Regions from separate parts of the Homo sapiens genome. Here region 2 is linked to region 1. A link means that fine-mapping ties the variant in region 1 to the expression of a gene that starts in the linked region. Tissue or cell type: subcutaneous fat. Region 1 holds a variant in brackets; the other region holds the start of a gene. All regions are shown on one strand. Distances are between the middles of the regions.

Region 1 (5,210 bases):
CTCCACGGAACAACCCAAGGAGGAGAATCAGTTCTGTCATCAACTGCCGCTAGCACCACCTGCATCCTCAGGAGGCAAGAATGCTGCCTTCATAAGCCACATCACAAAAACACCCTCTGGAGGAGAGGCGGTGTAGTAAAAAGTATTTTTTCTTGGTTTTGTTCAAAGTGTGTCATGCAAAATGGATTGTAAATGGAGTAACAAAGAGAGCTTTTACAAATACCGATTCACGCTCTGCCCCCTGGAGATTCTGATGTGACTGGTCTGCAGGTAGGGTCTGAGCATCAGTATTTTTTTTTAAAGTTTTCTAGATGATTCTAATAGACGGCCACTGAGAACCCCCGTCCTAGAAGGTAGGGTGTGTGTGTGTGTGTGCAGGCGTATGCGTGTGTGTGTGTGTGTGCCTATCCACCGAATATGTTATTTTTCTTTGTTCCCATACAACTGATAAAATTTGAAGCATAGGGGCAATAGGTCGGTGGTAATGACACACAACAAGGGCTCCATTACCTGGGTGGTGTCTTCCATCAGCCCACGAATCTTCTCCACAACATCGTTTCTCCGGTGCTGGCGCAGGGCGCTAATTAGCTGGGCGAGGCTGGCCTCGGGGCCCCGGATGGTCCAGTGCTGCAGAGCTGCGTAGGCCCGCTCGTGGTCGGCTGTGTACCCATTGGAGAAAGCAGCAACCTCCCTCTCACTGGCATTGCAAAGAAACTGATAGATATCTTTCCACTGGCTTCCCACTTGGGCTGCTACAAGCTTCAGGATATCGATACCTACACCAGAGAAAAAATAAAAAACAAATGAGGGCTTGTAAGGGAAGCTTCTTACATAAGGCAGCTCTGCTTTAATGAATGAACTAGAAGAGGCACGCTTTCCTATCGCTGTATGTCAAAGGAATGCATTGCCTCCCTTAAGCACTTGGCACAAGCAGCTCATCTTGTGGACTAGCTGGTACCCTCATACAAATTTCACTTCCTGAGTGTGGAACCAGAAGAAGGAATGATCATGGAATTATAATAAATCAGACCCAAAAAGATGTTTCGAAAGCCAAACCCAAATAAGGTATTCACGGTGATTCCTCTGTTACTATAGTAATACACCCTTGTTGAAGGAGAGGGGTGGATAAGTTCCAAGATCCCCAGTGGATGCCTTGAAGCCATGGATGGTACAGAGCCCTATACATACTACGCATGAATTTCTTTTTCCTTCTTCACAATGTATGGATAGAAGATTCCTTCTTCTTGTAGATCTTAGCAACCTCAGCATACAATTGACTTTTCTTATTAAGTGGGGAACTTTCATGTTTTCACTTAAAGGAAGCACTTTATGGCCGCTGGCATATCCAAATTATCAGCATCACTCCTCTCGAGCTTTGGGCCAATATTAAGTAAAATAAGGGTGACTTGAACACAGGCACTGTGGTACCAGTACTGAGACAGTCAATCTGATAACCTAGACGGCTACTAAGTGACTCACAGGCAGGTGAGGTCTCCAGCATGGATATGGTGGACAAAGGGATGATTCCCTTCCCCAGCAGGACAGAGCAGGATGGTACGGGAATGTGAGATTTGATCGCATTACTCAGAATAGTGCATAATCTAAAACTTATGAATTGTTTATTTCTGGAATTTCCCATTTAGTATTTTCGGACCACAGTGGACCACAGGCAACTGAAACCTTGGAAAGCTAAACTGTGGATAAGGGAGGACTACTGTACTAAATACAATAGTAACCAAGTAAGTTAGAGGCTCCCATCTAAAAACATGGTGACTTCATGACATTTAGAAAAAGGGAAGCTGCAAATTAAAACTGTAATGGACTTTACCCAGAACTGTCTAGGTAAAAGGTTTTCAAATTCTGGGAATGGTGTCCTTTATATCAACTAACAGTGTGCCCAGCTGTTCCAGGCCAATAGAAGCATTCCTGAAGAACACCTAAGTTGTGCTCAAATTCATGTTCAACAAGCAATTTTCTAATTCATTATTCAGTCTTCCAACTTGGCTTGCATAGTTATAATGAAGACAGCAGCCAAAATGACTGTATAATAACAATAGCTATTATCTTCCAGGTATTATGTTAAGGCATTAGCTCACTGAACATCTTTATAAGGCATTAATATTCCAATTACACAGGTAAGAAAAAAAATACACTTAGAAAAGTTAGGCTACTGGCCCAGTATCACAAAGGTAGGTGAGTTGGTTATTGAACCCAACTCACCAGTTTTGTAATTCAAATCCTGTATGTGTAACCACTATGAAATGTGACAGTATCGATGGTACCTTCCAAGATGAAGGAAATGCCTTGGCTTATAATGACTATGGCTGGTTAGTCTGACAGACAGCTGTCCCCAATGATTCAATATATTATCATCCTGGCTCAGCAGTCACTTGAAAACCCAGTGAGTGTGCATCTGTGGTCCCCAGATCTGATGAACAGATGAAATGGTGATGATGAAATTGGTGAAATGCAAAAATCAAATCTCAAGATCCAAAAACTCAGGATAAGCACCTGGCACCAACCGTTCGTGAGGGGAGGCTCTCCCTGAGTAGCTCACTTTGGTGTCTCTCTGTTTATGGCGTCTTCTCTCTGCAATTACACATTGGCTTTGCCAGGATTTACATGTGGGATGCATATATCACCCTTATAGTAAGGGCCCTGGTATTTTACTACAACGGGTGAGTGAGTCCTCTGAATCAATGTCATGTCTTTGGTTTTTTTTTTTGTTTTTTTGAGATGAAGTTTTGCTCTTGTCAGCTAGGCTGGAGTGCAATGGTGCCATCTCGGCTCACTGCAACCTTAACCTCTCGAGTTCAAGGGATTCTCCTGCCTCA[C/T]CCTCCCAAGTAGCTGGGATTACAGACACCCACCACCACACCCAGCTAATTTTTGTATTTTTAGTAGAGATGAGGTTTCATCAGTGTTGGCCAGGCTGGTCTCAAACTCCTGACCTCAGGTGATCTGCCTGCCTTGGCCTCCCAAAGTGCTGGGATTACAGGCGTGAGCCACCATGCCTGGCCAATATCATGTCTTTGAATGAGGTCACGCTCACCTGCCCTGATAACATAGCTGTTATAGTTAACAATATCTTAAAAAATATTTACTACTCAATAAAAAAAAATAGGGTCACATTCCCAAGTGAGGCTTAGGAGAGAAAGGAAAAGAGAAGAATAAAGAGGGGTTTACTGTTCTGATTTCTCAATCAAAGGTTTCCTAGAAAAAAAATAAAAATATTTTTTGCACCCATCAGTTGTTCAGGAAAATATTTATAAAATGAGCTATCAATTATTGCTAATAAAAACAATAATAATTATAAAAGTTTCTGTAAAAACGAAGGACGCTGTGGCTCCTCAACACGCATTCTTACTTTGCCAGGCAATCCTATTGAGGCAGATGATGTGGAAGACTGTATACACATTCTGCACCAATCCACTGAAAATGGTTTTCAAAAATCAGTTCCTAGTAGAAGGCTGTTTTCCTGTCAACTATAAAAGTAGAATGGATGGGCAGGGTGGCTCACACCTGTAATGCAGCACTTTGGGAGGTTGAGGCAGGTGGATCGCTTGAGTCCAGGAGTTTGAGACCAGCCTGGGCAACATGGTGAAAACCCATTTCTACAAAAAATACAAAAATTAGCTGGGTGTGGTGGCATAGGCCTATATTCCCAGCTACTTGGGAGACTGAGGTGGGAGGATTGCTTGAGCCCCAGAGGGGAGGTTGCAGTGAGCCAAGATTACACAACTGCACTCCAGCCTGGGTGAGAGAGGGAGACTCTATCTCAAAAAAAGTAGAATGCCACAAAAAATTTAAAAAGGATGCCACAAATTGAGTCATTACTGTACTTCTCACACAGTTTTCCCTGGCAGTGTGAAGTTACTTGAACCAAGTCCTTTTCAGTTTTCCGAGCAATGTTTAGTCAGATACAGAGCTTTTGATTTCAAGCAAATAGACTCCTCAGAAAACCCATAACTGATTTTAAACCCTGCAGGTAACTTTAAGGAATAAGCCAGCTCTTTGTGATTGATGTGGTAGACTCTTCCAAACACCAAAAGTCTTGTTAGTCCCTGAATCTTAATTTAGATCAATTTGACTAAGGTCCACAGTGTCTTACATGAAAACATGACCATGTTTTCTGGTAAGTAGGACCATTGCTTAAATCTTCATAATGCCGATGACAGTGGCTTTGGGCAAACCTCTAACTGTCATGTCCATTTCCTCATGTGTACAATGGAGAAACTCACTAGGGTCACTGCGGATAAGCTGATTAACATTTTCTATAGAGTTACTTTATTTTTGGAAGTGTTCCCATCATTATGAAAGCTCCATACACAGAGGACTAAACTTAAGGCTCAATGCATTTCAGATGCAAATACACGGCCTTTACGAAGTAATTACAGAGTTTAAAAGGTTTAAGTTTAACAACCCCTCCTTCCAAAACCCAGTACTGTATTTATCCTTTTTTTAAGCCACAAAATAAAGAAAAAAAGAAAAAAAAACCCACAAAGAATAGATACAATGAAATTTCCCTAAACTAAAATGGACTGGAAGCTAAATTTAAGGCCTACAAATCAGGTTTCATCTTGTTCTCTCTCTCAGCTAGATTCTCTACTATGAAAACATGGAGTCAACTCCATGAACTGGCTGGGGTCGCCAATGTTCTTCACTGCTGTCCTCTCCCACCGTGGAGTTGATAAATCAAAGATAAATCAATGACTCCCTCAGGGGATACCAACCTTTTAGTCTAGCACATTATCACAAAACCCCAGTGAGGAGACCAGACTGGGGCTTTGAATGCCTTCCTTGTGTAGGAAAAAGTGTTAGTCAAAAGAAAACAATCAACTACAGAGAAAAGCAGGAGGACGATTTGCCAAATTGAGATAGTTACCTCTTTGGGGAGGGGGAAGGAGCACAGAAGGGATTTCAAAGGTATTCATAAAGTTCTGTTTCCTAGGCTGGACAGTGGAGAAATGGGTTTTCTTTTCATGTTATTACTTTTATTTGAGATTTATTTTACTATTCCTTTTTAAACTATCTATATAACATACACATATATAAGATGTGTTTATAAATACTTCATAAATACACATGGTTAAGTGTTCAATTTTGTTGGCAAGGAAATCGCATGTTGGGGTTGGTGACTAGTGCAAGGTCACCCACCCAGTTAGTGATGCCTCAATTGTGGTTAATAGGGAATGTGATGCAGTGGAGGAACA
Region 2 (5,132 bases), 220 kb after region 1:
CTCACTCTGTCATCCAGGCTGGGTGGAGTGCAGTGGCAGGATCACAGTTCACTGCAGCCTCGACGGCCCTGGACTCAGGTGATCCTCTCACTTCCGCCTCCCAAGTAGTTGAGACCGCAGGCCTGTGCCACCATACCTGGGCTAATTTTTGTATTTTTTTTTTTTTTTTTTTTGTAGAGATGGAGTCTTGCTATGTTGCCCAGGCTGGTCTCAAACTCCTGGGTTCAAGTGCTCCTCCTCCCTTGGCCTCCCAAATTGCTGGGATTACAAGTGTGAAGATCCTGGAATTTCTAGGACATAAATGATTGTAAATGTTTTATCTTGTTGTCAGATCATGTGACCTGACTTCTCAGAAAATATCTACCTTATCTGTGGCCTCCACTTCCTTATCATTCAATTGATAAAACCTTTAATCTGAATTTTCTATTATATATATATTCTGAATATGTAGTTATATATTATATATTCTATTATATATATTCTGAAATTATATTTTCAAAGATGCCCTTATTATCAAATCTGATAGTCTTTATTCCCCCTTCTGTTTTACTTAACTTCTTTTCCATTCTATTCATTGGCCTTTCTTCTTTAAATATTAAGGATTCTAGAGACCTAGAAATTTAGTCTCTAGAAACTTAAGGGCTCTGGGCCTTGAATTTACTACCTATGTATGTGCTTCCAATAGCTTATATTTTTGTCTCCTTTCATGAATCCTTCTTAGCCCATCACCAGCCTCATTCTTCCAAATCGTAAATGGCCTTCCTTATGGGCTGCTTGAGCCACACACATTTCTTAAAGGCTCAGAAATACTCTGTTTGCATATCCACTTCCATTCCTCAGTTCTAGGACTCCTCCAGACTGAATTATTGCCTTCCCCAAGCTTTCGTTCAACTCATACCTTCTCTTTACAGCTTGCTTTGCCCACAGTAATTTATTTTCCTTTAAATTCTCAAGCATTTGACCCTCACTACCTCATACTGTTAATTAACTTTGTGTTCGTATCTCACCCCCCTAGAAGAATGCAAAATCTCTGAGGATTAGCGCTGTACTTTAGCTTTTTATTTTTTTGCTTGGTAGGGGACAACGAACATAATGCTGAACACATATTTGTTACCTAAAAAAGGCACATGTTCCATGATGTCAATGTAATCTTGTTTAGGTGAGTATATTCAACTTTTTTCTTTTATCCTTTTTGGCTGCTGTTTGTGAGTTTGATCATTCTTGTTATAAAATTACCACATGTAACCTTTTGAGAAGCATTAGAAGAATTAAAAGATGGCAAAAGCAGGCCTATAGGAAATAGTGGTAATGGATACGTCCAAGGTTACTACTATGGGCCACTGTGCTCTGCATTGCAAGATTTGTTTGAACATACTCAAGAAATTGAAGTTCAGACAGGTTAATTTATCCAAGGTCCCACAAAAAGTAAATGGCTGTGCTGAGTTTCAAGGACCCATGTCTGCCTGGATCCAAAGGGCAAGTCAGTTTCAGTGCTGGATGACTGAGAATTACAAAATTTCTTGAAAAAGCACTAGGCACAATAGTTGGCGTTCAACAAACGCTCACACACACATCTGCCCTGGAATTGGGTCTACTTAAACAGAAGGGGGAAAAAAAGCTTGCTGAAATAATTATACTTCTTCGTAACTACCAAGCTCATGTTTGACTGACTATAGTAATCCTATGCCCTCCTTCACATTGACGCTAGAAAAAATGCCTGGCAGTATTTCAAATCATGATGCCTATTTTTCTCTCGATCAAGTAACAACTCAAATTATACTTTAAAAAGAAAAAAAGCAAATTATAAAGTTGCATTCAGCTGACAAGAGACTAAAGGAATCTGTGAAACAGAATTTATTTGATGCCTAGGTTTCTCCCTCACCCGACGAAGACCAAATGCTGCTGATCCGTAAGTAACTTCGCAAGGTAAACTGAGGGGCCTGGCAGCATCTGGGCCTCCCTTAAAGGTCGAAATCAAGTGCGCTCGCCCTCCTTCTGTCCGCCTTTTCCCTTTAAGGTCCTCGAGGCTGCTTCGCTGCAGAAAGTAACTCCGCGTCGCCGCCGCGGAAAGTGGGGCAACTTTGCCTATCAGCAGAAACCTTTTGATCCATCTGAGGCGACAAACCAGACCAAACGCCCGCCCAAGCTGTTCCGAGCCTCCGGGGGGAGAGCGAGCCCAAGCTCCTCTGCACCGCTTCCTCATCCGCTCGCTGCACCTGGACGCGGTCGGCGCGCGACCCCCGGCCGTGACGTCACCGCACCTGGCAGCAGCCGTGGGGACCGGGAGAGAGCCCGAACGCGACGGGGCGGGGTGGGGCGGGGAGAACGAGGGCGTTCTCGCGAGATTTGCCTCCTCCCGGTCCCAGCTCCCCGCACCTTCTCGGCCTCTGTCTGGGTCCCCACCTTAGTCTACGGTGTCGCCTTTTCTAACTGCGAGTGCTAAGGAAGAGGCGAGGGGCGGGCTCCGAGGCTAGGCGGGCGCTCGGGGTTGGAGCCGAGGGTCTGGGCAAACCGGTGGGTCCCTCCCCACTGCGGGAGCGGCCAGGGTGGGAAAACCGCGGTCGGGCGGGCGGGGTAGGGCCCTCCCGCCGCCGTGGCTCCTGGGGAGGCCAGGGGTGAGGAGCTGTCGCCGCCTTTGCCTCTGCCTCGAGGGCCGCGCTGAAGAGACTGGTAGGAGAGCGCCGCGGGCGGATGGAGGCGACTCTTCGCCCCGCCTGAGCTCAGGAGGGGCTAGCGCGGAGCGCGGGTCCCGCCTCCAGCCGCGGGAGCGGCCGCGCGAGCCACCACTGGAGGAGGAGGAGGAGGAGCGGACGTCGGCTTCTCCCCGCGGGAGCCCCCAGCATGGGTAAGAGACTCGGGCGCTTCCCGCCGCCCGTCCGGACCTTCCAGACCCGGGGAGGCTGTGCCCTTTCTCGGCCTTCTGGGGAGGCGACTGCGGTCAGCCCCTGAGCGGCAGCACCCCACCCTCTCCATTCTCCCCACCGCCCCTTCTTGCCCTGCCTTCCACCTTGCTCTTCTCACGGAGAAACTGGTGGGAGAGCTCGCGGGTGCTTTCCCTCGCTCTCCCTTCTCCGCCTCTTTTCCTGTTCACCAGAAAGGTGCGGGATGGGGGGCGGGGGCGCCTGGCCACCTCTGCTAACCCCTTGCCCAGCTAAAATCAGACCTGACCTTCCTTCCCTTCCTCATCCCCTTGCTTCCCTCCCCCTCCTCGTGGGATGGGGGAGGGCGATCGAAAAACTTGATAAAGTAGCACTTTCAACTTCTTTATTTTCTGCGAGGCTTTGAATACGTTTAAGGAGAGAGATAAATTTGTTCAAAAACTTTTTTTTTTTCCTGCTGAAACTCGCAAGGGGTGCCTCAAGGACAGGAAAGCTTGAGTATTTGTTTTACTCGGGTTCTACCTAGGCAAGTGTGTTGGCACCTAAGCATTCAGTGTGCTCCCGAGGACTGGGTTTGGACTTCAGTGTTGGATCCTTTGAGGAGCAGTTTCCTGTTTGGAGTTAGACTTCCTTGCCGGAGGAGAGAAAAATACAAGGCCTTATATGTTATTTACTATGTGCTTTATAGTTTTGTTTGAAGTTAGAGAAGGCAGAATGTGTGGCAGTCCGGGTTGAAAAGGAGTTTTGTTAAGTGGTGTAACAATTTCTTTTGATAACAAAGTTCGGTGTGGGCTAGGCATTAAACTAACTCCCTCAATCCTTTAAAAATTAAAAGCAACTTAAGAATAGCTTACAAAAAACAAAACACCCTGTGTCTCTATAAGGCAGAACGTGTTCTGTAAGAGTAAACCCAAGTTTGATTTTTGTAGAGCAAATCAGGAGGACCCTATCACTTTTTGCAGTTGAGAGTTGGTACTGCTTCATATCAACAAACGATCACCGAAATGAATAATTCATGTAATTAACAAATGATTTAGAAGCAGGACGAATACAGACTACTGCTGATGTGGCACCCTCTGTCCACACTTTGCTTTGTGGGGGATGTTTTGAGCATATTGTTTATAGACACTCGCCTAGCTATCCTCTGTTTTCTTAGACTTTTCTAATTTTATGTTCCCTTCTCCACCTCCCTCCTTTCAGGTAACTTTCATACTCAAAAGTGCTCTTGAGCTCAAAAACAGTGAAATAAAACATTTGCTATTTGGAATTTTCAAATGAATTATTTTATAATTGATTAGTTGAGCTTGCAGGGCAATTGTGGGCATATTCTTTTAAGTATGAAATTATAAAATCACTTTAACTGCTTTGGATTAAGATAATACTAAAGTTAATTACACAGTTCTTTTCTGTCTTAAATGGGATGCAGAATAAAATTAAACTACTTTGGATGACCTGGGGATGCAGTCTTGTTTTGCATATAGGGCTTTTGAGCTAAATTCTAAATAATATTTGTTCGCATTTTGAAATTATTTAAATACTTTTTTTTTTTGCTTTGCTTTTGGATGTGCTTGTAACTGATTAGTGTCCCCCATCATCTTTCCTTTTCTAATTTTTTTTTAGAAGTGTGGAAATCATATTCAGGTTTGTGATTCTGCATAGGGGAAAAATCAGTAGGCCGTTACTTAGTGTGTGAGGTCGTCTCTGGAGAAAAGTAAATGTGTACCAATACTTGGACATTGGAATACCTATTTTGATTGTCCAGAGGCTTTTTCTTTGTGATTTATTTGTTGTGTTCTGTTTAGGTGAGTTTTCATATAGACTTGGATATCAATGTTGGTATACTCTCGACTACTTAGAATGTGTTTTGAAGGTATGTTACTGAGGGCATTTGTGGTTAAGTTTTTGTAAAGTGTTTGTGAAACATTTCCATATCAATATATATATTCTTTAAGTTTATTGGTCATGTAATAATAAAATTCCCAAGTTCACTTAAAGGGAGTTTGCTCTTTAATATAAATCTCATTTATTTGGTTTTACCAGCCATCCTTTTTTCTTATGATTTTAGATGCAGCCTAAAATATTTACATGATATTTTATCTAATTTGTCACAAAATGAAAAAATCTGAAATTTTTTTTGTGTGTAAGATAATTTGGATGCCTATTAAATGGTGGTTCTTAAGTTTAGGTGGTACAGCTAGAGAGTTAAAAGCATGGGCTCTGGACAGAGACTACTTGAGGTCAAATTCTCTTCTA

Direction of the effects. Positions count from the first base shown, and alleles are read on the strand shown. Sizes are in standard deviations (SD) of each study's normalised expression.
For the expression in subcutaneous fat of the gene that starts at base 2,386 in region 2, C is the low allele of the variant in region 1 and T is the other (large effect, 1.0 SD a copy in FUSION).

The links. PIP is the estimated chance that this variant, and not a neighbour inherited with it, causes the effect.
Region 2: it holds the start of CD2AP, and the variant in region 1 is fine-mapped to the expression of CD2AP in subcutaneous fat (FUSION, PIP 0.95).

Annotation. Positions count from the first base shown.
Region 1 is chr6:47,252,746-47,257,955 of GRCh38, forward strand. TNFRSF21 (TNF receptor superfamily member 21) reads right to left here. Exons shown (of 6, transcript NM_014452.5): 4 at 511-776. Among named protein-coding and RNA genes, the nearest start is that of TNFRSF21, 55 kb to the right of the region's middle. The variant C/T (reference allele first, on the strand shown) is at 2,835.
Region 2 is chr6:47,475,404-47,480,535 of GRCh38, forward strand. It overlaps CD2AP (CD2 associated protein), which reads left to right and starts at 2,386. Exons shown (of 18, transcript NM_012120.3): 1 at 2,386-2,845. The coding sequence starts at 2,842. CD2AP-DT (CD2AP divergent transcript) reads right to left here and starts at 2,669. Exons shown (of 1, transcript NR_187257.1): 1 at 1,840-2,669. RefSeq lists a silencer at 2,148-2,657 and an enhancer at 2,944-3,670.